Homo sapiens: one gene and its partners. The protein of the gene in region 3 interacts with the protein of the main gene of each other region in a pairwise test. Each region holds a gene or a part of one and is shown on either strand. Other genes may lie near its edges.

Region 1 (6,612 bases), on a different chromosome or scaffold from region 3:
TTATCCAGGCATGGCACGCACCTGTAGTGACAGCTACTTGAGAATCTTAGGCAGAAGGATCACCTGAGCCCAGGAGGTTGAGGCTGCAGCGAGCTCTCATTGTGCCAACTGCACTCCAGCCTGGGCAACAGAGTGAGACTCTGTCGAAAGAAAGAAAGAGAGAGAGAAAGAGAGGAAGAGAGAGAGAACCTGTGAGGAAATATACTGATGGCAACAGTAAGGAATTATGGAATTTCTTCATTGATCTACTTTTTTTTTTTTTTGAGACAGAGTCTCGCTCTGTGCCCAGGCTGGAGTGCAGTGGCGCAACCTCGGCTCATTGCAAACTCCGCCCCCAGGTTCAAGCGATTCTCCTGCCTCAGCCTCCTGAGTAGCTGGGATTACAGGCGTGCGCCAGCGTGCCCGGCTGATTTTTTGTATTTTTAGTAGAGATGGGGTTTTGCCATGTTGGCCAGGCTGGTCTTGAGCTCCTGACCTCAGGTGATCCACCCACCTCGACCTCCCAAAGTGTTGGGATTACAGGTGTGAGCCACCGTGCCCGGCCTGATCTACTTTTATATATCTTCTAAGCTTTCTATATACAAGTAAACAGAATAGTTTGCTATATAATGAAAATGACAAGAATATATTATCCTCTCCAAATGAGACAGTATACTCTAGACCAGTAGTTCTGAAGCTTTATTGTAATTCCTCCAGAAGAATCACCTGGAGGTCTTGTTGAAACACGTATTGTTGGACTTCATCCCCAGGCATTCTTGGGTCCCAGTGGTCTTGGGTGAGGCCTGAGAATTTGCATTTTTACCAAGTTTTAAGATAATGCTGATGCTGCTAGTCTGGGGCCCATACTTTGGGAACCACTGCTACAGTAATGAAAAACCCCAGTTATGGTGTCAGCTAGCCCTGGTTCTCAGTACTGTTCTTAACACTTACTAACTGTGTGACCTTGGGCAGATTACTTAACCTCTCTGAGCCTCACTTTCCCCCATAAAATCAGTTTTAAAATATACATTTGTTTTCACCTTTTAACATTTCCCGATATCAGAATGTTTACTACTGGGCATGACAAAGTTTGATAGTGGGCATGACAAAGTTTAAATGGCTACATGTTTCTTTCTGATTGGCAAATGCAAAAATGGTGCATCTTACAACTGATGGTGCCTAAGATGTGAGGAAATATAATCGCTACCTTAAAGGGTTGTCAAGAGTTAATATGTGTCAAGTACTTAGCATGGTGTCTGGCACAAAGTAAAATCACTTAAAATGACAATCGATTTTAGCTGGTAGTGAAAAGGAACAGGAACTGTAGAGTAAGGCTTAGGGAGCAACTGACAGTGTGAAAATGGAACCCAAATTGAGATTGATCTCCTCTTTCCTGTTTCTTCTCCAGGCAGACTTCAGAGACAGTAAATTACAGTGCTGTCCTGGCCCGACTTCCCCGCTGATCCCAGCAGCGACCCTGAGGCCTTTGACAGAGACCGTCTCCACAGTGCAGACCATTTACACCACCCGGAAACCTGTTTCTCTGGCAGCCAGGTAGGTCAGGTCAGCAGGTTCCGACAGGTAATTCTGGTGACAGGGAAACCAGGGAGACTCTAGGTTCATTGTGTTTGTGACACGTACAGGCCTTTCCTACATTCTTTCATTTATTCTGTAAGTATTTATTGAAATGTCTATAAAGGGGCCAGGTGCGGTGGCTCTCATCTGTAATCCCAGCACAAGGGAGGATCCCTTGAAGTCAGGAGTTCAAGACCAGCCTGGCTAACATGGTGAAACCCCATCTCTACTAAAATTAGCCAGGCGTGGTGGTGCACACCTGTAATTCCAGCTACTTGGGAGGCTGAGGCAGGAGAATCACTTGAACCCAGTAGGTGGAGGTTTCAGTGAGCTGAGATTGCACCACTGCACTCCAGCCTGGGCAACAGAGTGAGACTTTGCCTCAAAAAAAAAAAAATGTTTACAAGGGTAGGCTGTTAGAGGAGATAGACAACAAATGAGTGTGTGTGTGTGTGTGTGTGTGTGTGTGTGTGTGTGTGCGTGTGTGTGATATTGACAAGGGATAGGGAGGAAAATGAAATTGTGAATGGCAATAAGGTATCCTGGGATGGCCTCAATGAGGTGGCATTTAAGCAGAGCCCTGAAAAGGGCTATAGAGAAAGCTGCAGATACCTGGGAGGAGTACTGCGCAGAGCAACCAGCCAGTGCTAAGGCTCCTGAGGAAGCATGTGCCTGACATGGTTACGGAAGTTTAAGGGGCCAGCGTGGCCAGAGCAGAGTGAATGACAATAGAGGAGGCCTGTGAAGTTGTGGGTTAAGGCCAGACTGCGTAGGGCCTTGTTGGCTACAGTAGAAACTTTGTTTTCTACCCTGAATGAAATTATTAAACTTGGTTAGTGCCTTTAAAGATGTGTATTTTGCCAGGCATGGTGGCTCGTGCCTGTCATCCCAGCTACTCAGGAGGCAGAGGTGGGAGGATCAGTTGAGGCCAGGAGTTCAGGAGTTCAAGTCCAGCCTGGGCAACATAGCAAGGCCCCATCTCTAACTAAAAACAATGAAAAGATGTGTATTTACTCTGTGTGTGTGTGTGTGTGTGTGTGTGTGTGTGTGTGTGTGTGTGTTTAAACAGTGGAGACAGGTTACATAGATATGCAACTGGACCTGAGGTCCAAAAAGTCAGAGGCAACTTCTCAAAACAGCCAATTTTACTTCATTCAATTTGATTCATTAAAATATAATTAATTATTTGTTACAACATTCCCTCAGATATTCATCAAATGAAAGCCTGGGAGAAAATGCACATGAAACCAATTTAAAGCATGATTTAAATAAATCTAACCCCTGGACATCTTCATTCAAAAGTCTTTACTGAGGGCCGGGCTTGGTGGCTCATGCCTGTAATCCTAGCACTTTGGGAGGTCGAGGCAAGTGGATTGCCTGAGCTCAGGAGTTCGAGACCAGCCTGGGCAACACGGTGAAACCCCGTCTCTACTAAAATACAAAAAATTAGCTTGGCATGGTGGCACGTGCCTGTAATCCCAGCTATGCTGGAGGCTGAGACAGAAGAATCGCTTGAACCTGGGAGGTGGAGGTTGCAGTGAGCCAAGATCACGCCACTGTACTCCAGCCTGGGTGACAGAGTGAGACTCCATCTCAAAAAAAAAAAAAAAAAAAAAACACTTTACTGAGTGGCTGCCATGCACCAGATACTGCGCAAGGCTCTGGAGGTTTAGAGATGAATGACATATAGTCAGCCAGGAACTCTCAGCATGGTGGGACTGAGAAACCAGTAAGTAGCCAATTTCAGATCACTGAAATGCTAGCAAATGTAGATAGTCCTCAAGGAGTCTAAAAAAGAAAGTCCAACACTGAGATCAGGAAAGAACCTGGGAGATGATACTTAAGCTGTCTGCTTCTGCAATTTTTGAGGGATTGTCTCACTATTTTGTCACATACTTTTTTTTAGTGCAGAGACACTCCGGCAGGAACTGGAGAGAGAGAAGATGATGAAAAGACTGTTGATGACCGAACTGTGAAATTCTCCCCTTGTCACCTGGAAGATGGCATGGTGCCTTCTGTCCGTCTTCTTTCTTCGGGCTTTGTGTGCTCACTCTAGCACAGCATACAAGTGTGTGCTCTGTTCGCCCAGGTCTCCATGGTTAGTTGAAGCCAATTTCTGGCTTGACTTTTATGGGAAAAGTTATTTTATGTCTCCTAAGCATTAGAGTTTTTCTATTACTCTATGTAGTTGAGACAGGATTTGATAAGTCTAGGAAAAGAAAGATGGGAAAACGGGATTCCTTTTCAGAAGTACCTGTGTGTATCTGTTAATAACCACAGGGGTTAATATGATGTAGGATCTTTTACTATCAATTTCAACCATTTGATTTTGTATGATTGAAACTTGCACCGAGCTTTGACTGTTTGTTAAAGAGTCATTTTTAATGAAAGAATAATTCTTTATTGCTGGTTTTTCATTTACACTGATAAATACACAGATCTTATAAAGTCTTTAACATTCATTTGTATTCAGATGTGAGTAGAAGAACTAAAAAAAGAAAGTTACATATCACTATGACTGAAGGTACTTCAGCTTAATCTGAAATATAATTTAACTTGTGAACTCCTTGGATATGATATTATTTGGAATAAACAGAATTTATCATTGAACCCAAAGTAGGAAATGATAGCTTACATTGTCTAAAAATCCTTACAAGGTTAAGATGATTCAATATCAAGAAGATTCAGAAAATTATTTCTAAAGTTGATCGATTCATGTCGTATTGATAGAATCTTGACCAGAAGAAATTTTGCTCTTTTTATATAGTTTCAAGAAATGTGTTTTTAAATTTTTATTAATGCACTTGAACAACTTTGCAGGAATAAAGCAACCCCCTAACCACAAAATATCCCTCTAAATTAGTTCCCTAGCTTTCTCAATGAATACACACATATTTTTACATAGCTATGATCGTTGTGTACATTCTCCTTTGTTTTACTTCTCGGCCTAACACTTGTCTCCTCTTGTCAACACAGATTCTACTCTCACCAATTTAAATGTCTTTATATCCATGTAACATGGGTAACCTCACTTCACCCCATTATTAGATATTTGAGTTATATCTAATTTTTCACTCTTATAAATAGTGCTGCTATGAATGTCTGTAAAAAAAAAAAACTGCTCCTTCTTTTGGATTATTCCCTTAGGAATATCTCCAAAGAGGGATTACAAGGTCAAAGAGCATGAAGTATTTTATAGCTCTTGTTTTATATTGCCAGATTGCTTTCTAGAAAGATCCAATCTTTGGGTTGGAAGGACCTTAAAGGTCATCTAGTTTAGCCTCCCCACCCCCTCTGAATGCTTGAATCCCCTCGACAATTTATGATGCCACCAGCAATGTATAAGCATTTCTGTTTACCAATAGCTCTGCCAGTATTGGGTTTTGCCATTTTTATTTATTTTTGCTAGTTTAATAGGTATGTATAGTTGTTCTTGAAGAGTTGTTTTATTTCATTAATTGCTAGCAAGGCTGAGCACTTTTCCATGTGATGATTTACTAGTTGTATTTCCTTGTGTGTAAAATGTTCATTCATTTCTTATGACCACTTGTTAAGAGGAACTGATCTCATATATTTGTATCAGAACTGTATTTTTATGTTATATTGTATAGTTTGCTCTCCTGCCCCTCTCCTTAAAACTGAATGGTGCCAATAATTTGATACTAATGACTACAAAAAAAGGTAATGCCTCATTTACTAGTATTGTTGTAAAATGAGGAATGTATGTGAATATTCAGATAACCGAGGATTAACCCTTTAAGTGCTGAATCTTTAAAATTTTAATATATTTTTTTTTGAGGGAAATCTTTCTAAAATGTATTACGCACTTCCCTGCCTTAGTAAACAGAGTATACTGGAGAGTATTTAACCTTTTCTTGATGAGTCATGGTCATGATTATAAACATCAGCCCCTTTTATACCTTGGTACGGTGCAGTGATATCATTAAGAGCTATCAATATGTGTAGGGCTTGGCTTGGCCTTTTATAGGATATTATGCTGTTCTCACTGATGGTTTTTTACTGCTCTCTGCTCTGTCAGTGGAGCTATCCGGGGCAATTGTAGCGTTTGGGTCCTTTTACCCCTATGTCCCCCGGCTATACTTTTAAAACAGCTTTAGCTGTTCTTTATCTTGTGCACATGATACAAAATATGTTCCCGTACAATATGGGGCTGTCACTTCTTGCCAACCCAGCACCCTCTTCCTCTTCTAACCTGCTTTCTGAGGCTTCTGCTCTTCACCTCCTGCTCGCTGATGGAAACCTCCAGGGCAAAGCTGAAGGTTTCTTGGGGAAGCCAGGAAAGCCAGTATTTCCTATGTGTCAGATCTGCTTGGCTTCCAAGAAGGGATGCATGGGCTTTTTGGCCAGTGTTTCCAGGAGGCTCTGGGCTTCCTGCTTCTTCCCCGCTTCCCCCAGAGTTCACAGATGTTGAAGTTTCTGAAGGTTGACGTCACTGGAAGTCTGACCACAAACAAGTTGGCTGTTACTGTATTTGAAACCCAGTACCTTTGGCAGCTCACCTCTAACCAGTAAAATAAGAGGATTCCATGGTTTCAGCAGTTGTCCTGGTTATTTGCCTATTTAAGTGAATGATGGGTGCTTGGCATTGTGACTGAGAAGATGAAATTGTGCTGGATGGATTCATAGGGATGAAAATGAATTGGCGCAATTGTTTCACATTTTTTATATATTTTAAACCCAAACAACAGCACTATATGGGCACACAACACACACCTTATGTCCGGGGGAAACAATCAGCTTACTGACATAGTCATTCCAGAGCTAGGGCTCCAAACTGTAGGATGCAGATTCCCAGTAGGCATGGAAGGTTATTGCAAGGGGTCTGGGAAACCTGCAACCCACAGCTTTATGGATTGTAAACTGCATAGGAAATTCTATGTTTGAAGAGTTTGAGATCCTAGGGCATTCAGAAGATCCCACTTGCATGCACCCAGAATTTTATATTCCCCAGGAATATAGCAGAGGAATATTCTGGTATCATATTTATCTTTCACCATCTCAAAAATTACAGTTTTAAAAACTCAAATAAAATTCATC
Region 2 (7,763 bases), on a different chromosome or scaffold from region 3:
CCAACTAAAGACCTCTTCCCCCACCATCAAATTACAGTATATGAGTTACACAAAAACTGGATATACCCCTATCTGTGTGGAACCAGAGAGCAAACCAGGACCTAGGATAGAAGTGAAAATCTCACGTGAGGGTATTTGTTCAATATATTAGTTCAGTAAAAGAAAATCTTTCCATGGGCCAAGACAATGCCACCAGGAAGTGGGTTTTGGTAGGCACCTTCTTTTTTTTTTTTTTTGAGAGGAGTCTCACTCTGTTGCCAGGCTGGAGTGCAGTGGCGCGATCTCGGCTCACTGCACCTCCACCTCTGGTGTTCAATCGATTCTCCTACCTCAGCCTACCAAGTAGCTGGGATTACAGGCGCCCACTACCACGCCCAGCTAATTTTTGTATTTTTTTAGTAGAGACGGGGTTTCACCATGTTGGCCAGGCTGGTCTCAATCTCCTGACCTCGTGATCCACCCACCTCGGCCTCCCAAAGTGCTGGGATTACAGGCGTGAGCCGCCGTGCCAGGCTGGTAGGCACCTTCTATAGCTACCCACAGTTATTTGTCTCAGCAACATTCTCTCTTTGAGGCTAATAGAATTTGGATTTGTTCAGAAAGTTAAGGAGAGCCCTTGGTCTCCAGCTCCCAAGGGTGAATCCTGACTGGTCTAAGCCAGTCATGGTATTCTCTTTCCCTATGGCCTTTAATTGGTCTGAGTTAGGGCAGGTAGTGTAGTTCTGGCCGGAGACAGGGGGTGCTGGTACTTTCTTCTCTGAATTAAAAGACAAGGCTTCAGGTAAAGGTCTTTTTCCCCTTCCCTTTTATTCCTGAAACTCAAGAAAGCTGGAGATAAGCATCCGTCCTGTGGCCAGTATGCTAGAAGCATGAAAACCAAGGTCAACATGCTAAGGGTGGCAAAGCAGAAATGGTAAAGGGGTTTAGGATCCTTACAGCATTGTTGAGGAGCAGAACCAGTACTAATAGCTGCCTACCTCTAGATTACTTATGTGAGAAAAATAAACTCCTTATTTTTCAAATAACAGTTAAAATTTCCCATTACTTCCAGCCAAATGCATTTTTCCTTGATACAGCTATATTTAAGGAGAGGGCTTTCTCTGTCTCTGGCAGAAGTCAATTTTCTGGTGAATTTATCACGAAACGTGTGTTACAGAGGGTCCCTATGTCTAGAAGAGAGGATCTGGGGAGACAATGATTTGTTATTAGGAATAATTTCACATAATTAGAACATGAACAACTTTCTATGACTTGGGCCCTTAAGTTTCATCCTCCTTTCCTCAAGTCTTCATATTTCCTTTAGCCTATAACCATCTTTCTCAACAGATTTCTCTAACCTCATCCACAGCCTCCTTCAGTTCCACCTTTTTTTTTTCTGGAGATGGAGTCTTGGTCTGTCACTCAGCCTGGAGTGCAGTGGCGCCATCTCAGCTCATTGCAACCTCCGCCTCCTGGGTTCAAGTGATTCTCCTGCTTCAGCCTCCCGAGTAGCTGGGACTACAGGCACACACTGGCACGCCTGGCTAATTTTTGTATTTTTAGAAGAGATAGGGTTTCACCTTATTGGTCAGGCTGGTCTCGAACTCCCGACCTCAGGTGATCTACCCGCCTCGGCCTCCCAAAGTGCTGGGATTACAGGCATGAGCCACCGTGCCCAGCCCCAGTTCCATCTTTGATAGGAGATAGAAAAAAAGATTGAGCAGGATGGATGAAGAGGACACTGTTTTTCAAAACTGGTATGCTTTTCAACAATTTAGGAGAATAAGATATGTTTATAAGTATTGACAGAATTCACTTCCATTTCTGATCTGTAATCAGATAAACCAGAACTTTTCAAATGAGTAAACATCAGGTAAACATGGAAAGAGACAGTCTGGACAGGCTGAGGGGATGGCACTGAAGACCCTGCAGTTTTCCAACTGGCTAATCAGACCCCTGGGAAGAAGGAATGCTTTTCGGGGTACCTGGCCCAGGTGGGTTTGTTTGTTGTTTTTTGTTTTGTTTTGTTTTTAGACAGAGTTTCACTCGCATTGCCCAGGCTGGAGTGCAGTGCAGAGAAAGCAGCTCACTGAAACCTCCGCCTCCTGAATTCACGCGATTCTCCTGCCTCAGCCTCCTGAGTAGCTGGGACGGTTTTCACCATGTTGCTCAGGCCAATCTCGAATTCCTGAGCTAGAACTCTTGAGCCTTGGCCTTCCAAAATGCTGGGATTACAGGTGTCCAGGTGGTATTTTTTTAAATACTCTTTTTTTTTTTTTCAGACAGAGTCTCTGTCGTCCAGGCTGGAGTGCAATGGTGCAATCTCAGCTCACTGCAACCTCCACCTCCTGAGTTCAAAAGATTCTCCTGCCTCAGCCTCCCTAGTAGCTGGGATTACAAGCATGTGCCATCACACCCAGTTAATTTTTGTATTTTTAGTAGAGACGGGGTTTTACCATGTTGGTCAGGCTGGTCTCGAACTCCTGACCTCAAGTGATCCTCCTGCCTCGGCCTCCCAAAGTGCTGGGATTACAGGCATGAGCCACCACATTCGGTCTAAAGGACTTTATTATGAAAAATTTTAGATAGAATAGTTTAACGTCCCCATCACCCAGCCTCAGTTTATGGCCCATTCTTGTTTCATCTATACCATTGCTGCTTCCCCCTGCCATATCATTTCGTTTTTTTGTTGAGATAAAGATGCAAGATGACCAGCAACAATTCCTCCCATCCCTGAACACCCATGCTGCTCCTCTCATGAAGAGTGATGAAAATATTCCACAATTAGATTGTGGTTTGTGGTTCTACAACTCTGTGAAAATACCCAAAGCCATGGAAGTGTACACTTTAAGTGGGTGCATTATATCTCAATAAAGATGTTTTTAAAAGGTGGAGAAGGAAAATTTCTCTATTTTAATAATATTTAAAGAAAAAAAAAGAGGTAGAGTCTCTTTCATCTCCTTGAAACTGGGCGGCCTCTGTGATTTGCTTAAACCATTAACAGGCAGCAGAAGGGACGCTCCGTGACTGCTGGGCATAGCCCTTCATAGGCCTCAGAGCTTCTGTTTTCACTGTTTTGCCACACCAGCGGATCTGCAAGAGAGTAGCCCAGGCAGAACTCAGCTGTTCTTTGCAGCCACCCCAGCGGAGATGCCACACAGACCAGTGAAACCACCTTGGCAGCTCCAGCACCTGTTGAGCTGCCCAGCCAACACCACATGGGGCAGAGATGAGCTGCCAAGCCTGTCTACTACGTTTTGGGGTGGTGGAGGAGTGGGCAGTGCCAAATCCCGAGAAGAAGCTCAATGAGTATTTGTCTCTTTTCATTTCAGCAAGCAGAGGGTCCTCAAGGTAACACCTTCCAGTGGCTCCCCCACCTCTCTCAGAGCTCTAGCCAGGGCCCACAAGGCCCTACATCTTACCCCTTTCCTCTCTGACTGTCACCTCCTCTTCCTCTTGCTTCCTCACTTCTAGCCACACTGGACTTCCTTGAAAAGACAGACCTGTCCCCTTGCAGGGCCTTTTGCCCTTGCTGTTCCCTTCGGTTCTCCCCAGATGGCCACAGGGTTCCTCCCACACCTCCTCTAGGTCTTCATTCAAATGCTACCTTTTTTTTTTTTTTTGAGACTGAGTCTGGCTTTGTCGCCAGGCTGGAGTGCAGTGGCGTGATCTGGGCTCACTGCAACTTCCGCCTCCCGGGTTCGAGCGATTCCCCTGCCTCAGCCTCCTGAGTAGCTGGGACTACAGTCGGACGCCACCAGGCTCAGCTAATTTTTGTATTTTTAGTGGAGACGGAGTTTCACAGTGTTGGCCAGGCTGGTCTCGATCTCCTGACCTCGTGATCCGCCCGCCTCGGCCTCCCAAAGTGTTGGGATTACAGGAGTGAGCCACCGCGCCCAGCCAAATGCCACCTTCTTATTGTGACCTGCTATGTAAAATCGCAAACCCTCACTGCCTGTGGTTATTCCCTACTTGTACTTTTCTTTTTAGCATTTACCAATGTCTGACAGTATTTAATTTCACTAATTTATCTCGTTTATTTTATGTCTCGTTTATATTCCTGCTATAACGTAAACTCCGGGAAGGATTTTTGTCTGTCTTGGTTGTCTGTCGTATCTCGTGTCTAGAACACAGAACTCACAGTAAGTAGGCACTTCAATCAATTACCTGTAGAATGAACGGACTGAATGTCACCTTGTTAGAGTACCCTCCTGACCACACTCTGCTAAGCAGTAATCTTTTATTTCTCTTTCCCAGTTTTATTTTTCCTCATTTACACTTAATCACCTTGTGACACCTATTTGTTTACTGTTTCCCCAGTAGAGTGAAAGTCACTTTAACAGCAGAGATTTAAATGTATTTTAATCCCTACAAAGGAGAAAAAGGGAGGAAATACGTGACAGGCTCTCAATAAGTATTTGCGAAGGATTTAATCTCTTGAACGAATGGATGAATGAATCTAGCAGCCAGCTCCACCAGCCTCCTTCGTGATAGGACTAACTGGGGTCTGTCTGCGGACGGGCGCCTCCTCCGCGGGCGGAGGGCCGCAGCGGGAACTGGGTTTCGGCAGCGCCCCTTTAAACCAGCCGCGGACGCCCGGCTGCTGGCGCTAGTTCCAGCCCGGCCGGGCCCGGCCTCGCCGGTTTCTCTCCAGTCGCCGCGCCGGCCAATTTCCGGGGCGGTGTCATCGCCCGTTTAAGAGCGGAGCGCTCCGCCCTGGGGGCGGAGCTGGGAGGGAGCTTTAAGGGGTGGACGGGCGGGAGGTCGGGGTCCTCCGGGGATTAGAGCCGGTGGGCTCGTTGTGGGCGCCATTTCTCGGCGTCTACCGAGGAGCCGCCCCTTTCTCAGCCTTGCTCGGCTCTTCCCCGCTCTGGTCGCCGGGGCTGCGCCGTCCCCAGCTCAGGTAAGCGCGAGGCCCGGCGGCGGCGCCGCAGTACAGTCCGCTGCGCTCCTAGCCGAGTGGACCCTTCCTCGCCCGCGCCTGCGGTAGCGGCCTTGTCCCCGGGGAGGCGGGCGGGGGCCGCACCCAGACCCTAGGGCGGCCGGCCCCTCTCTCGTCGGGCCGGCAGGGCATTAATCCCGCCGGAGGGAGGGGCGGCGGCGGCCAATGAGGCAGGGCCGCCGAGTTTCGGTCGATACCGCGCGACGGGCCGGGGCGGAGGGCCCGGGGCAGCCGGGTTAATGTTTGCCGAGCGGACGCGCTCCCCGAGCCGCGGGTACCCCTCGCTGGTCCGCTGGGCTGCCGTCCAGCGGGAGAGACAAAAGTCGCAAGGGAAGGGGAAAAACGAACTGAGTTTGTGTCACTGTCTTGGTGGACTTTTCGAGCTAACCTGTATTTGAGAAAAACTTCAGTCTCTTGGGAAAGGAGAGGCAGGTGTGTTCCCATGAAAGACGAGGTCTGAAGGTCCCGCCCCGCCCCCACCCGGGACGGTTGTCGTGCTAATGATGGGTTCTTTGGTGTGTAAATGTTAATTGTGTCTGTGGTTACTCGAATTCTACCTAAGAGCGAGACCCAACTCTTAAAACGTTTGGCAATATTTTAGACTAATATTAAAAGTTTTTAAAGAATTACGGGGAAAATTCCCATAACCGTGTACATTTGTAATGTAACCCACAACTGCATTAACTCAGTTTCTAACATAACCCGTTGCTGAGCTCTAGTTAACCTTGTTGGATTATTTGTGCATGTAATATGCTGTGCAGGCTTTAGAAAATAGGTTAACATTATTCGAAAACGATATGCGTAACTGCTGTTGAATTACTCGCTTGCATTTTCTTTATTGGGAATACTGGGACAAAATATAGTGTTACCTTAAATGGCATTTGCTGTATGTTATATTGCTTTATCAAAAAGCAATTAACCAACCATATTGTGGCCACCAGTCATGTAAGAGTATACATATTTCATGACTAACTTTTGGGTTTTGGGTACTTTTTTTAACCAACTTCTGATAGGATTGCTTAAATTTGCATTTTATGATTCTAAAGGAAATCCTTCTAGTTAGGAACTAGAGTAGAAACTACTGTTTTTTGGAAGCCACATAAACCTACCATCCAAAAATTCCACTGTGTCATTCTAGTGTGTCAGGCGAGATGCGGGTTAAGCCAGCTGTTGGGCCAAAGTAGTGAACAAGCCAGACGAAGTCTTTGTCCTTGTGTGTGAGTGGGGGAAGTAGTCAGTAAAAAAGATAATAATTAACAGATATTTAATTACAATTTCTTTGTTATAAAGAAAAGGCTAAGAGTACTGAAAGAGATGTCGAATTTAGACTCACAAGTCTGAGATTGCTTTTCTGAGAATAAGACATTTCAACTATAAGTCTGAAGTTAGTCCAGTGAAATGGGAGCGGGTGGAAGAGAGGTCAACTGGAAAAAGAGCAATCCAGAAAGGTGGAACAGCTAATGAAAAATGGTCCAGAATTAAAAAGACTCTCCGGCCGAGCAGCAAGAGTACAAGAGCAGAGCAAACAGAGGGGAGTAGGCTGACAGATGGGTCAGGCAAGTAGGAGGAGCTGCATCTAGGACCAGGGCCATTAAAGATTTTAGAACAGGGATCAGATTTGTGGTTGCCAAAAATCCAGTGGCTGCAACATGAAGAGCGCAATTGGAAGAGTGCAGGTGGGAGGGGAAAAGTGAGTATGAGAAAACTTTTTTCACAATCATTAAAAAAAAAAAAAACCCACAACTTTTAGTGATCCATTCATATTATTTTTTTTTTCCATTAAAAAAAATTAGGCCAGGCGCAGTGGCTCACGCCTGTAATCCCAGCACTTTGGGAGGCCGAGGCGGGCGGATCACGAGGTCAGGAGATGGAGACTATCCTGGCTAACACGGTGAAACCCCGCCTCTACTAAAAAAAATAACAAAAAATTAGCCGGTCGTAGCGGCGGGCACCTGTAGTCCCAGCTACTTGGGAGGCTGAGGCAGAAGAATGGCGTAAACCCGGGAGGCAGATCTTGCAGTGAGCCCAGATCGCGCCACTGCACTTCAGCCTGGGCAACAGAGCGAGACTCAAAAAAAAAAAAAAAATTAGGTGGGGTCTTGCTGTGTTGCCCAGGCAGGTCTTGAACTCCTGGCTTCCAACAGTTCCGCCTTAGCCTCCCAAAGTGCTGGGATTACAGACATGAGCCACTGTACCCAGCCATATATTCTTGTTGTGACTTCTGACATGCCCCTCTTCAGAGAGAATCTCAACAGTTTACGTGTGTGTCTGTTTAGCGTGTCTGTGTGTGTGCATGTATCCCATCTCCGTGTAGGATGAAACTCTCTTCAGTGTTCTGTGATTTGATTTTTCACTTAGAAATTTTGTCATATCTAAGTCAACTATTTATTTAAAACAACTGTATTATGGCTGGGCTTGGTGCCTCATGCGTGTAATCCCAGCACTTTGGGAGGCTGAGGTGGGAGGAATCCGATTCCCTGAGGCCAGGAGTTTGAGACAAACCTGGCTAAGTAGCAAGACCCTGTCTCTACAAAAAATCATTGAAAAAACGTTAGCCCGGTGGGATGGTATGTGCCCGTAGCCCTAGGTGGGAGAATCCCTTGAGCATGGTAGATGAAGGCCGCAGTGAGCCCTGGGTGCTAGAGTGAGACTGTCTCTAAAAAAAAAAAAAAAAAAACATAAAAATAAAACAACTGTATTGTATGCTGTTGTGTGTACCATAACTTGTTTAACTGTTTGCACATTGATGAACACATTTAAAATTTTCTTAAATCAGTTATGCTCCGAAAAATCCTGTTCCTACAACTTAAAGCACATGTGTGATTTTTTTTCTTTAGGTTAT
Region 3 (7,026 bases):
CAGTATGCATTATTTCTACCCCTGAACTTACCCCTAGCCACTCAAATACATATTCTAATTTTCCTGTATTTTCAGCAGGTCACAGATTGCCTGAAGCCATTGACCAACTCCATTTTAAGAATTCCTGTATGAGGTGAAGAACAGTTGAAGAGTTTCTCTGGGAAAAGTAGACTCATATGGATAAGGTATATATACTTTTGGGTTGTAGGCAATTCTATGAGGCAATCTTTTAGTTGTAATTTATTTTACCTCGACAGCAACCATATTTGCATCATGTATTAGAGTTAGCAACAAAAAAGAGACATGAATTCAGAAGTACTTATAAGAAAGAAAAATAGCACATTATACATTTTTTAAAAATCATTTTTCCCTATTTGAAGTTTTGTCTAATAAAATGTTCTCCCCTTTGACCTAAACTGTAGTTTTTCTTCTTTTTTATTGTTTCATTCTGTCTGAACCTCTATTTCAGCATAGATTTTCCTATGGGAACTGAGATAAAAAATTAGAGGAGAAAATGAACTTTGAGTAATCCCATCATTCTTTAGCTCAGAATTCTCTTCCAGAAGGCTCTAATGTGACTCACCATTCTCCAGTAAAACCTGGCCGGCACATACATTTTAATTCAGTCTGGAACTCTGTGCAGTTGCCTCCATTGTAGCAAGTGAGATTTGTCTTCTCATTCCCACAGACTGTTGAGGGTAATCTGCTCTGTCTAGAGAGATAAAAGCAAGAGCCACAGCTGTTCATCTTGTTCATCTCATTCAAGAAAAGTTTTCTGATAAATTCATGTATGTAGTCAATGCCAAGCTAATTAAGTACTCAGGCTGGAGGAGCTACAAATGCTTAATTGTGCTGCATTATGCAAGAATCACTTTCTCCAGTAAAAAGCTCCTGCTGGAGGGTTCTGTGACAAGCATGGCTATACATCTTCCATTTCTACACAGTTTTCGTTTGTGAGATAAGATCTATGCCATGGGGTGGCAATAAATTTTGGGTTGGAAAAGAACTTGCTATAACTAGATTTGCTGCTGCTTTGCTAATAAATCAATAAAGGCCATAGGAAAATTGCATCTCTATAAAGGCCAGGAAGCAAGGACAGCACTCTACTACCCAAGCACTCATGTGATTTCTCTATTGGCTTTCAGAGCTGAACTCCAGTTGCCCTGCCAAGACTTGCTGCTCCCTATGTAATAATTCATAGCTTCGAAGAATGCAAGCCAAATGCTGTCCAGGAGCTTTGTATATAGCACACGATGGTAACTGCATGTGAATTCAGAGTGTGGCTCTCTGATATGGCAACAAAGCTTTACATGTTAAAGAATCCTCATAAAAGGCGGAACAAGTATTAGAAGCTAAGCGGAACTTCACTGTAAGACAAAATCTAGTAATGTGAAGGGACTGATATTTAAAGAGTTTAATAGTGTTGCTTAGGCCCTTTGACCCACTGTGTATGTGCATGGTATCAGATAACTAATAAATATTCAGGAAGTGTAAAATGAATTGAATTTTGTTCTGTTGTGTGTGCTGCAGCTAATGTGGATAGACTAGCTTATATGATGCTAAGTGTGTCTCTTCCCGCAAGAGCTAATCAATTCTACTTTAAAAAGAAGGATATCATAAAGACTTTTCAAAAGAGCCAAAAATGTCAACCAGCTTTGAAAGAGGTCAATTAGCAATGCAAATATGAAGCTTTGTATACATCTTGGTTTTAATAAACAATTCCTGAATCTCATTAGAAGGTATTTTTGAGGGCTTTCATCTTTCAGAACTTGACTTTAATGAATTAGGCAGAAAAAAATTCTGGAGAAGTAGTTACTAGGGCCTATGTGTTTATTTTACTTATCAAAATTCACAGTGAAATATACTAAATTTGATCCTGAATTCTTCTTGCTTTTAAACAGGCAGGTTACCTGTTGGGAACACTTAGCACCTACAACAGTGCCTTGCTTTCACAGGCTCAGAACAGTAACTGTTAAGGAGAGATGTACAACTTCTTATAGGTATGCCTACATGTTATGTTTGCTAGGAGATTCATGCAATTAAGGTACCACCTCTGAATTAGTGTAATGTCTACAGGCTGCCAACCCATTCCAGGTGTTCTTGCCGAAGTTCTGGAATGTATTACTTGTTAATAATAACCCTCTCACCTCCCCATAATGACTCAATTATTTAGTAAATTTAAAGCGGTGTAAGTTGTAAAAACAATAATAACTTCTTACATGGAAATACTGAAGCAATGTGACTTAGAAGAAAAATAGTCTTTCTTATCTCTGTTTATATAGCTTGAAATGGAGGTAGTTACAAGAACTAAAATACTGCTTTTGTAGTTGTAGAAAAATGTGAAATACTTTGAAATGGGCAAAAAAAATCACTGCATATTCTTTCAATGCACTGCTGGGTTTACATAAAGGACTATCCAGGATTATCCACTTTTGCAGTGGTCTGTGCCTTATTACAATTCTGTAAGTTGTAGAAAACAATATTAATATGAAAATCTTGTTCGTCAAAATGCAAATTAGTTTATCTGTAGTGAGCCATACAAATGATTATCACAGTATTGAAGATGACTTCAAATACTAGTTTTCTTGCCCTATGGGATATTAAACAGTTTTGTATTTATTAATAAATTCATTCACTCATTCTTGTTTGTATATATACGTATACATATTCTTTAGATTGTCCTTTGAATTAGTTTTTATATCTTACTAGTTTCCTCATTAATGACAGAATAATTAAAACATGTTTATTTTATATTTGTCTGAGAATTATAATTCCACTGTTTTGAAATTACAGTTGACCCTTGAACAACACATGTTTGAATGGTGTGGATTCACTTATATGTGGATGTTCTTTCACCTCTGCCACCACTGAGACAGCAAAACCAACCCCTTCTCTTCCTCTTCATCCTAATCAACATGAAGACAATCAAGATAAAGATCTTTGATGATCAATTTCCACTAATGAATAGTAAATTTATTTTTTCTTTCCTATGATTTTCTTAATAACATTTTATTTTCTCTAGCTTGCTTTATAGTAAGAAGACAGAATATGACATACAAAATATGTGTTAATTGACTATGTTATTGTTAAGGTTTGTGGTCAACCAGGCTGATAGTTGTTATGTTTTGGGAGAGTTAAAAGTTAAATGTGGATTTTCAACTGCACATCAGCACCTCTAACCCCTGCGTTGTTCAAGAGTCAGCTGTATACTTTAATGTACTGTTTTCGGGATTTTAGAGTATTTACCTGCCTGAAATAGCTCAAGGCATTATTTTAGCAATAGAAGTCATGCCTTCCCTAACAATACTACATTTCAGCTTTTGCATTTATTGTAAATGCATTTGTTTCCCGAGGCCTTGAAACTGTTAGACCCTGGGGCTACAGTTCATGAGACATATTTTCACACAGATGACTGAGAAAATATTTTGCTGAAAATCTGATTTAAACACTACCTTTCTGACCTGTAGAATATCCTGGTAAGTGAGATCCCATCTGAACATGACCAAATTGTGACAGAAGCTACCAGTGTCACCCTGTTCAGCACAGTATATATGTATACCTTGAGGAGAGAGCTTTCCAATTTGACAAGAACAGTGATGCAGAGTATAGCTTCAAAGACCAAGCTTCATATGGACTTTATGCTCACCTGCAAAATTTTCCTGTAAAATTTCCAAAACAGAGGCAAGAATAGCCATTAGTATGACTAATGCAGGTGGCTCCATTTGCACACTGGTGACTCTGGCAGTTGTCTATATCCACTTCACAGTTCACACCAGTGTATCCAGGCTCACATGTGCAGTGGTAGGCTGCAACTCTGTCAGAGCAGTTGCCATGGATACAGGGGTTTGAAAAGCATTCATCGATGTTGAGTTCACAGTGTTTCCCTGACCATCCCAAGGGACAGGAGCAATGATAAGAGCTATAGATGTCTTCACAGTTTCCTCCATGCAAACAGGGGTTGGAGTTGCAGACATTTAACTGCAAACAGCCAGTGACCACTGAATTGGTAGAGATTTTGAGAAATTGCTCTTCCTGAGGTTTATTAATGAAACCATGAACATTTTCAAAGTAAGAGAGATAAATGCCTCCGATTTCTATTGTACTTAGACACCCTTGCAGGCCCTTTATATTGTCAATAGCTCTGTCTCCCACATAAATATCTGTATTATCCTTCAAAAAGTTGAGGCTTCCAGTAGCAATTGTGCTGGTCACAAAAGGTGTTTCGTTGTCCACTTCCATTTGCCACCTGGAGGTCTGGGACAGTGGGTCTGTCATGGAAAGGGTCACTTCGTGCCATGTGCCATCATTCACTGACTGCAAACTTGTCAGACTTAGCATATAAAAGCTGTTGCCACTTTGCAATTGAAAGAATAATCTGGAATCTTGAATGCTAATATTAAGAAATTCAGGCTCTTTTTCTGCATGCAATATTATTACATTTGCATCCCTTGTTCTGAAACCAAATGTGATATTGGTGAGTTCTCTGGTAATATTCCCATTGCTTCTGAATAATATTTGACCGCTTTGTCCATTAAAAACAGCATTTGCAATACCTAATGAGAGAAGGTGATAATAATCAATAACTTTATTAAATCTATAGTTTGCTTAATTACCGTTATTAATAGTAATGATCATTGTGTTAATAACATTGCATATTGACTATTTGATACATGTTACATACTGTGCTAGTTGCTTTTATATTATTTCTAATATCAAACTTTTGAATACAGGTATTATTATTATCCCCATTTTATGGAAGAAGAAGTTGAGACTCACAGAATTTAAGTAATTTTGTTCATGGTCATGTAATTAATAAATAACAAAGCCAGAATATCAAACTGGGATGGTCTGATAGCAAAACCAAAACTATACATTTCTTTTCCAGTGAAATCCTAATGCATGCCAATTTTTATTTTGCATTTGCTCCCACAAATAAAGCATTGATAATTCATTTTACACATAAATAAATTGAGCAAAAAGAAATCACAAATCTAGCTATGGTGACCCAGAAAATTAACAGTGGAGTCTGGCTTCTGATTAAGCTGATGAGTAGGCAGTTAAAAGTAGCATTCCAAATGACTGATTTACTTACCTGGTAAAACTCCAATTATGTGACAAGCTGCAAATTCTGTATCTACACCCAAGTACTTTCATATACAACCATATCAATTGCTCTCATGCTATATGTGAGCAGAGCACTTTGGGCAATCCTATTGCATTTCTCTATTAAAAACTTTTTTCCCCATTCTATAAGATGATTAACAAACAACTTGTTCTGTCTCTTAAAATATCTAATTCTGTCTCAGCTTATGATCTCACCTAATATTTTCTTGAAAAAACAGAGCTACCTCAGATATCCATCAAATCTGTAAACCTAATATTATTTGGATCCACACTGCATTCTATCCTGCTATAATAGACGTATTGTCTGTATTCCCACCAAGGTCAACTCTACCAGTTATAAACTGGGTCCTACTGCTTTTCACCTTTTAAACATATTATTCCTCTATGCATTCTTTTTCTTTCTTGCATCATCATTTCCCCTTCCATTTTGTTGTTTCCCATCAATATACAAATATGTGTAATTGCTTTAATCTTAAAAAATAAAAATACACACGAAACAGTATCCTGACATCCCCCAATCCTGCTGCTTTTTTGTCTATTTTCTTTACCAGCAAAACTTACTAATTTTATATCCCCATGGTCTCACTCTATTATTCCTCATTTTTCTCTTTTATATATGCCACTCAAGCTTTTGTCCCAGTCACTTCACTAAAACCACTTTCATGGTTACAATGAATGACCTCCATGTTACTCAATGCAGTGGCCAATTATCTACTTTTATTGTATCACACTTTTCAGTAGCAAATGACCTGAAAACACTATTAATACATTATCAGGCACTACACCCAACCACCATCATCTTTCATTAAGACTAATTACTTCTTAGTGTCCCTGCTTCTACTGCTCTGCAGATCAATATAACAACCACTCCTTAGTCAAGCTCCATTAGTTATCATCTTTAAAAGAAATCCTAAATTCTAAACATAACCACAAGAGTGTACATGATCTGAGCCAGTTGTGGGTATAATCTCAGCTATCTGGGAGGCTGAGGAGGGTGGATAGCTTGAAGTCAGCAGTTTGAGACTATCCTGGGCAACATAATAAGACCCCGTCTCTCTTCAAAAAAAAAAAAAATTCATGACAAAATTTTGCCATGTTAAAAAAAAAAGCATCTACATGATCTGGCCCCTGATTAACTCTCCAATTCCAATTCATTCACAGGCCACAGCCACAATTTCTTGCCATTCATTGAAGATACACCAAGCTTGTTCCCAGCGCAGGCCTTTTATACTTGCTGTTACTTATACCAAGAATATTATTTCCCCAGATCTTCTTATACTTGGCTTTTCTTAGTGTTAATATCGCTCAAATGTCACCTCCTCTGAGAAGCTTTTCCCTGACTATCCAAGTTAAAAAAACCGCCTCCCTGCATTCACTGTCTATGCTTAATTTTCTTCATAGCTCCCATTACCACTTAAAATTACGTTTATTTGTTTACTTGTTCCTTCACTGTCTTTCTGCACTAGGACATAAGCTTTATGAAACCAAGGATCCTCTGTGTCTAGGTTATCACTAAATCCTTATGCCTAAGCCTGTGTGTCCCTGATGTATAGTAGGTGCTCAGTAAACATAATTAAATGAATACTCTATGAAAATAACTCCATCCTGTATCCTGAAAAGTGAGATAATGATTAGAAACCACAGCAGGAGAAAATTTCAGTGTATCATTCAAGTGTATTATTTGACTTAATTAAATAAATCAATTCCTTTGATCTTATTGTTTTTTACTATGTGTGTGTGTGTGTGTGTGTGTGTGTGTGTGTGTGTGTGTGTGTGTTTCAACCAGGTTTGGAGTTGGGAATTTAGGGAAAAAAAGAGCAACAAGTGTTTCATTACATGTTTTTAAGTAAATGTTAAAATAAAAAATCTCCAAAATTCTCCAACTCTGAAATGAAGACTATG
Region 4 (7,026 bases), on a different chromosome or scaffold from region 3:
GAAAGTGGACACTGTTCACATATTTGATTCCTTCCTTCCTTCCTCTCTCTCTCTCTCTCTTTCTTTTTTTTGATGGAGTCTCGCTCTGTTGCCCAGGCTGGAGTGCAGTGGTGCAATCTTGGCTCACTACAACCTCAGCCTCCCGAGTAGCTGGGATTACAGGCGCATGCCACCATGCCTGGCTAATTTTTGTAGTTTTAGTAGAGACAGGGCTTCAACATGTTGGCCGGGCTGGTCTTGAACTCCTGACCTCAGGTGATTTGCCTGCCTTGGCCTCCCAAAGTGCTGGGATTATAGGCGTGAGCCACCATGCCCAGCCCTTGACTTCTTTTTTTTTTATTGTGGAGAAAGGGCTGTGGCCAAAGTCCAAATCTGAAGATGATCCTACAGACTTCTTGGTAGAACTTTACTGCTGCCCTCTCAGACTTTTCTCCAGAGCAATCCAAGACCAAAAAAGTGCTTTAAGTTCATTCATTTCTCTAACACACTCGCCATGCTTCTTACCCACTCAGTAGCCTGCAGCTGACAAGACCAGACAGCTGGTGATTGTGGGTAGGTTAGGAAACTGAGCTGAGTGTCCCCTTTTCTGGGATACTGCATGTCCAACAAGGCCCAGTGACAATGCTGAGCCTGACCCTTTTCATGAAGGCTCAGTGATTCTTCTCCAGCCATGAGGTGCCTGAACTTCCCCTGCTAGGGACTTTACACATGTTGTCTCCTTAAACCCTCAGCAACATGGTCAGGTAGGTACTAAGTAGCATACTAATTTTATGGCTGACAAAACTGAGGTTAGAGAGATGGAGTGATTTGCCCAAGATCACACAGCTAAAAATGGTAGAGCTGGGATTTATACCTGCACCCCAAGCTATATGAGACAGTAGCAGTGTGTGGTCAGTGGCAGAGGAGATGGTGGTGCCCATCAGCTGGTGACTTCGGTCCAGTGGTATTTGTAGTAACAAACTCAAACTCACTGGATTTTCTTGTGTGTTTTCTTTTATTGCTGCTGTGCTCAACTATTATCAGAAAAAGTTAAGTAACAAAGCCAGCTGAGATCAAGGGCTCATTTTAAAAACAACAACCAGGACAAGCAGTGATCAGGAGATTTATGTATTCATGTATGTATTTACAGCCTGCCTTGTTCCAAAAAGGATTTAAGGGGCTGGGTCTAGGATTTGCTTTTAGGAGATTGTAGAAACAGTCCAGCCACCCATACTGCACCCACCAGGGTATTATTCAGGGGTCATTTGGCTTCCAAAAGAGGTCACCTGAGACCTAGCATGTTCCCTAATTAGCAGAGAAAGTTTGAATCCTTCAACTTGATTAAGAGTAATTTAGGATGCTTTCACAAGCAAAGATTGAAAGAAATTGTGGTTTCATAAGCAAAGATTGAAAGAAATTATGGGAAGAACATGGGTTTCAGAGTCAAGAAACCTGGGTTTCTAGTCTTGGGTCTGTCTACTGTCTAACCCTGGGCAAGTCACTTTACCACTCTGATAATTAGTCTTCCCATCTGTAGTGCAGGAGGTCAGATTAAATATTCTTTCCAGTGCTTTTGGATTTAGCTTTTCAGAAGGCAGAAGATCACCTTCACCTGTCCCTCCAAATTCTTTCTGATTGCTGATTTCCCACCAGGACTTCGTCTTCTATGCTCCCCGGCTGCGGATTAACAAGCGGATCTTGGCCTTGTGCATGGGGAACCATGAACTATACATGCGCCGTCGCAAGCCTGATACCATTGAGGTGCAGCAGATGAAGGCACAGGCCCGGGAGGAGAAGCACCAGAAGCAGATGGAGCGGTAGGTGCTGCACACTGATGTGGGGGGCCAGGGCTGGGGCAAGGAAGCTTCTCAAAGGTGCCCTGCATGCTAAGTCAGGACATGAGGCCAACCTAGGACTTCATAGATGAGAGGTTAGACACCAATATTCACATTTATTCAGAAAAAATCTACCAAGTTTGAGGGGCAGTTTTTACAGAGCTGGATCTAGCAGGAAACTGCCCTGTAGGACCTCACAGTCTACTCAGTCTAGTAGCAGAGAGAGGGAAAACAATATATACATAACTCAAGGTACAAAGGCCATGTCATTCATTCACTTAATAAATATTTATTGAGCAATGAATAAGAAAAGACCAAAAATCTCTGCTTTTGTGAAGCTAGCATTCTAGTGGGGAGGAGACGAACATAATAAATAAGCAAATTATGTGGTACATAAGATGGTTAAGAAGTGCTATGGAGACAAAAACATAGAAGAGGGATGGGGAGAAGGGTAAGCCAAGTATTCTGAGGGCCCAGATGGAGAATACCTAGCCAAGGGAGATAAGAAGGTTCCTGGAAGAGGTGCTAGGGCAAGAAAAAGCAAAAGCAAATACTTATTCCAGATTTGTAACAGACTCTGGGAAAAAGAAGCCTAGAGCTGGGCTTTAGGGCAGGCAGTGTTAGACCTGAGGACTGATGCACTAGCCGTAGAGATTACTAGACTTGAAGCACTTCATCCCAGCACAGAGCCAAAACTTGTCTCCCTAACAAGGTGGATAGGGCAGGTCTTATTGGACCATTTTCAAGATAGGGGAACAAGAGCAAAGCAGTGACATAGCTAAGGTCACCCAGTGGGTTGGTGGGAGAGCTAGGATTCCTGACTCAGGGGTACATTGACAGGGCCCCGTGTACACTGGCCTATGTGGGGCTATGATATGAGGACAAGGGTATAGAGGTAAGGGAGGGTGGCCCAAACTCACAATCCCTAAGTGTGTTGGGAAGGTTGGGTTGAGAGACCCAGAGGCAGCAAGCCTTGGAATTCCCCAGGCTTTTTTTTTTTTTTTTAGATGGAGTCTTGCTCTTTTGCCCACGCTGGAGTGCAGTGGCGCAATCTCAGCTCACTGCAACCTCCGCCTCCTGTCTTCAAGCAATTCTCCTGCCTCAGCCTCCTGAGTAGCTAGGACTACAGGCGCATGCCACTATGCCCAGCCAATTTTTTTTGTATTTTTAGTAGAGACGGGGTTTCACTGTGTTAGCCAGGATGGTCTCGATCTCCTGACCTCGTGATCTGCCCACCTCGGCCTCCCAAAGTGCTGGGATTACAGGTGTGAGCCACCGCGCCTGGCCTCCCCAGGCTTTTGTGGAGCGTTGTTATCCTGTTCTATCCATTTTATCTCCTTCCCTAGTGCTATGCTGGAAAATGAGAAGAAGAAGCGTGAAATGGCAGAGAAGGAGAAAGAGAAGATTGAACGGGAGAAGGAGGAGCTGATGGAGAGGCTGAAGCAGATCGAGGAACAGACTAAGAAGGCTCAGCAAGGTGAGGCTTGGAGTCACCTTGGAGATTGGATTTTTCCAGGCCTAACTCTGAGCTGGAGAACCTTCTGCCTGAGCTGTAGACTCAGACAATGTAGTTCAGGTGTGGCTACAGACTAGAAGAAGAATGGGCAAGAAGAGAGCTCAGAACTTTCTGCCAGCTTTGTCTTGGGGTGGATCATTTCCAGGAACGAAGCTATTGTGTCGTCTTTATCTCTGTGCTCTTCACTGCCTTCTCCCCTCCTTTTCTGCTCAGAACTGGAAGAACAGACCCGTAGGGCTCTGGAACTTGAGCAGGAACGGAAGCGTGCCCAGAGCGAGGCTGAAAAGCTGGCCAAGGAGCGTCAAGAAGCTGAAGAGGCCAAGGAGGCCTTGCTGCAGGCCTCCCGGGACCAGAAAAAGACTCAGGAACAGCTGGTAAAGCTGTAGGGTGGGCTGGGATTATGGGAACTGAACTTTCTTCCTTGTCTGCCTACTTACTTATAGCTACTTTTGCTTACATGCTGGCTTTTTAGAGCAGGCTACCACTCCATGGGCCTCCAGCAAATAACTAGTTCAGAAGCAAGCTGAGAAGTCACTAGTGTGGCCCAGAAATTTTTGCAGTCTTCCCTAACCCTTAGTTTCTGTTCACTTTCTTAACTCTTGGGTATCTGAGCTGATTGACCTGGCAAAGGAAAGGGAAGGAGAAAAGAACAAAAGGGACTCATATTTGAGCTCCTGCTGTATGTTGCTGTGTTGGGAATATTTCCCTTTTCCTTACTTATTTCTTCTTCCCAGTAACCCTATGGGATTAACCTCATATGAGATAATATCCCAGATAAGGAAATTAGAGCTCAGGGAAGAGATTCACCAAAGATCACACAATTGTAGCTAAATAAGGATTAGAACCCACCCATTTCTGCCTCTGTTTGAAAGCTTTGCTCCCTGAAATCACATGCAAAACTATGTGTCTATGCATTTTTGGGGCATTTGGCATCCATACTTTCATCACAGTTTCCAAGGGTTCTGTGACTCAGAAGTTAAGAACCTGTGGTCCAAACTCCTTGACATATACTCTTCCTTTGTACTGTTGGAGGTGGGAATAGAGGGAACCAAGACCTGTCTCTCATGAGGAAGCTGTCATGGGAGATTTACCCAAGGTGTGCATAAGCTTTTTTCCTTGTTCAGATAGCTTTGTGACACTTGAGTGTCTTTCCTGTACTTGTCCTGGGAAGACTCTTAGTCGAATCCTGAGCATTCTAGGATATCAGGAAAGGATCTGCCACTTCAGGAAGTGACCCAATGATGGCCAAAGCTTTACTGAGGCCCCCAGCTGCATACTTGCCAAGAGGGGCAGGGGGAGAGATAATGAGGAAGGGACAGAGATGGCATATTGTTTGTCTTCAAGAGGCCTACAGTCTAGGTGGGGGAGCTCTGACTTAAAAGGAAGTGGTGGTCAGGGAAGATGGGACTGGAATGAAGTAGTCTGGTAAAAGAGTCTCTGAGGCAGCAAGCAAGTGGAGCAGTAGGTCCCTTACTAGTCCCCCAGGGGACTTGGGTTGAAGACACCTGGGTCCTGAGGACCAGAAGGCCCAGCTCTCACAGGCTTCCAATTTATCCGTAGGCCTTGGAAATGGCAGAGCTGACAGCTCGAATCTCCCAGCTGGAGATGGCCCGACAGAAGAAGGAGAGTGAGGCTGTGGAGTGGCAGCAGAAGGTAAGACACAGGGCCTAAAGCAAAGCATTGAAGGAATGGGTGCCATATGCATAGGTAACAGCTCCTTAGATTCCTTATGTTTTGGCTCCCTCCCTCTTTCATACTTCCCACAGCAGGCAGCATGGGAGAAGGCACTCATGGTTTCGTCAAATACTTACTGGAGTTCTCTAATACCTCTAGGAAGTTGGTACAATTGCTCTTGTTTTATGGATGAAGAAACTAAGGATCAGGCAGATGAAGTGCCTTGTCCTACCTGGTGCCTGCCTCTTGCCAGACCGTTCTAGGCATATACAGGATGCCACAGTTTAACTGGTCTCACTGACAGTCTTTCTCTCCTTCTGTCACTGGACAGGCCCAGATGGTACAGGAAGACTTGGAGAAGACCCGTGCTGAGCTGAAGACTGCCATGAGTACACCTCATGTGGCAGAGCCTGCTGAGAATGAGCAGGATGAGCAGGATGAGAATGGGGCAGAGGCTAGTGCTGACCTACGGGCTGATGCTATGGCCAAGGACCGCAGTGAGGAGGAACGTACCACTGAGGCAGAGAAGAATGAGCGTGTGCAGAAGCACCTGAAGGTATACAAGTAGGGCCAAGGGGCAAGGAAACTATATGCATTGATTTAGTAGCCCATGGCATTCCCTAGACCATCATGGGGGATAGGTATAAGATCCTGTCCCAGTGTTGTATGGGAGCCCAAGCCGTTCTTAAGTGACAGCTTTAAGGATAGGCACCTCTCACTTATTAATCAGACCTTGGGCTATCTCTTCCCTTTTTGAGATTTTCTCTCTGCCCCACCTCCCACTCACTCCATTCACCTCTTACATTAAGAAAATATCTAGCTGACAAAATTCCCACCTGAATCTTTTGTATGTTGTTCTACTCTTAAAGGATACCCATTATCAACTGGTCCCCTAAGTTTATTTATTTTTTTTTAATATTCTTGCCCCACTGCAGTTCTAACAGAGTTGGAAATGACTCTCAATATTTATATATAGAGAGAAAGGGTGAGGAAGAAAGAAGGAAACAGAAGAGAAGGGAAGTCTGGTCAAATAACAGGAGGTAAAATGAGAGAAAGCCATTGACCTCTGTGTTCCCATACATCCTCACAGGCCCTCACTTCGGAGCTGGCCAATGCCAGAGATGAGTCCAAGAAGACTGCCAATGACATGATCCATGCTGAGAACATGCGACTGGGCCGAGACAAATACAAGACCCTGCGCCAGATCCGGCAGGGCAACACCAAGCAGCGCATTGACGAATTTGAGTCTATGTAATGGGCACCCAGCCTCTAGGGACCCCTCCTCCCTTTTTCCTTGTCCCCACACTCCTACACCTAACTCACCTAACTCATACTGTGCTGGAGCCACTAACTAGAGCAGCCCTGGAGTCATGCCAAGCATTTAATGTAGCCATGGGACCAAACCTAGCCCCTTAGCCCCCACCCACTTCCCTGGGCAAATGAATGGCTCACTATGGTGCCAATGGAACCTCCTTTCTCTTCTCTGTTCCATTGAATCTGTATGGCTAGAATATCCTACTTCTCCAGCCTAGAGGTACTTTCCACTTGATTTTGCAAATGCCCTTACACTTACTGTTGTCCTATGGGAGTCAAGTGTGGAGTAGGTTGGAAGCTAGCTCCCCTCCTCTCCCCTACCACTGTCTTCTTCAGGGTCCTGAGATTTACACGGTTGGAGTGTTATGCGGTCTAGGGAATGAGACAGGACCTAGGATATCTTCTCCAGGATGTCAACTGACCTAAAATTTGCCCTCCCATCCCGTTTAGAGTTATTTAGGCTTTGTAACGATTGGGGGATAAAAAGATGTTCAGTCATTTTTGTTTCTACCTCCCAGATCGGATCTGTTGCAAACTCAGCCTCAATAAGCCTTGTCGTTGACTTTAGGGACTCAATTTCTCCCCAGGGTGGATGGGGGAAATGGTGCCTTCAAGACCTTCACCAAACATACTAGAAGGGCATTGGCCATTCTATTGTGGCAAGGCTGAGTAGAAGATCCTACCCCAATTCCTTGTAGGAGTATAGGC

Evidence for each region.
Region 1: the proteins of CRB1 (region 3) and EPB41L4B interact in a two-hybrid assay, tested with the Homo sapiens proteins (one study listed by IntAct).
Region 2: the proteins of CRB1 (region 3) and EPB41L5 interact in binary tests that used the Homo sapiens proteins (3 or more experiments, as listed by UniProt).
Region 4: the proteins of CRB1 (region 3) and MSN interact in a two-hybrid assay, tested with the Homo sapiens proteins (one study listed by IntAct).

The regions. Positions count from the first base shown.
Region 1 is NC_000009.12:109,171,472-109,178,083, reverse strand, and holds the end of EPB41L4B (band 4.1-like protein 4B), read left to right. Parts: intron 1-1,387; coding exon 1,388-1,533; intron 1,534-3,460; coding exon 3,461-3,530; 3' UTR 3,531-6,110; downstream 6,111-6,612. UniProt on the Homo sapiens protein: Up-regulates the activity of the Rho guanine nucleotide exchange factor ARHGEF18. Involved in the regulation of the circumferential actomyosin belt in epithelial cells.
Region 2 is NC_000002.12:120,008,329-120,016,091, forward strand, and holds the start of EPB41L5 (band 4.1-like protein 5), read left to right. Parts: upstream 1-4,748; 5' UTR 4,749-4,882; exon of another isoform or gene 4,883-5,353; intron 5,354-7,763. UniProt on the Homo sapiens protein: Plays a role in the formation and organization of tight junctions during the establishment of polarity in epithelial cells.
Region 3 is NC_000001.11:197,432,233-197,439,258, reverse strand, and holds part of CRB1 (protein crumbs homolog 1 isoform 1 precursor), read right to left. Parts: intron 4,554-7,026; coding exon 3,647-4,553; intron 713-3,646; coding exon 584-712; intron 1-583. UniProt on the Homo sapiens protein: Plays a role in photoreceptor morphogenesis in the retina. May maintain cell polarization and adhesion.
Region 4 is NC_000023.11:65,733,635-65,740,660, forward strand, and holds part of MSN (moesin), read left to right. Parts: intron 1-1,632; coding exon 1,633-1,796; intron 1,797-3,160; coding exon 3,161-3,291; intron 3,292-3,543; coding exon 3,544-3,704; intron 3,705-4,890; coding exon 4,891-4,983; intron 4,984-5,335; coding exon 5,336-5,560; intron 5,561-6,094; coding exon 6,095-6,259; 3' UTR 6,260-7,026. UniProt on the Homo sapiens protein: Ezrin-radixin-moesin (ERM) family protein that connects the actin cytoskeleton to the plasma membrane and thereby regulates the structure and function of specific domains of the cell cortex.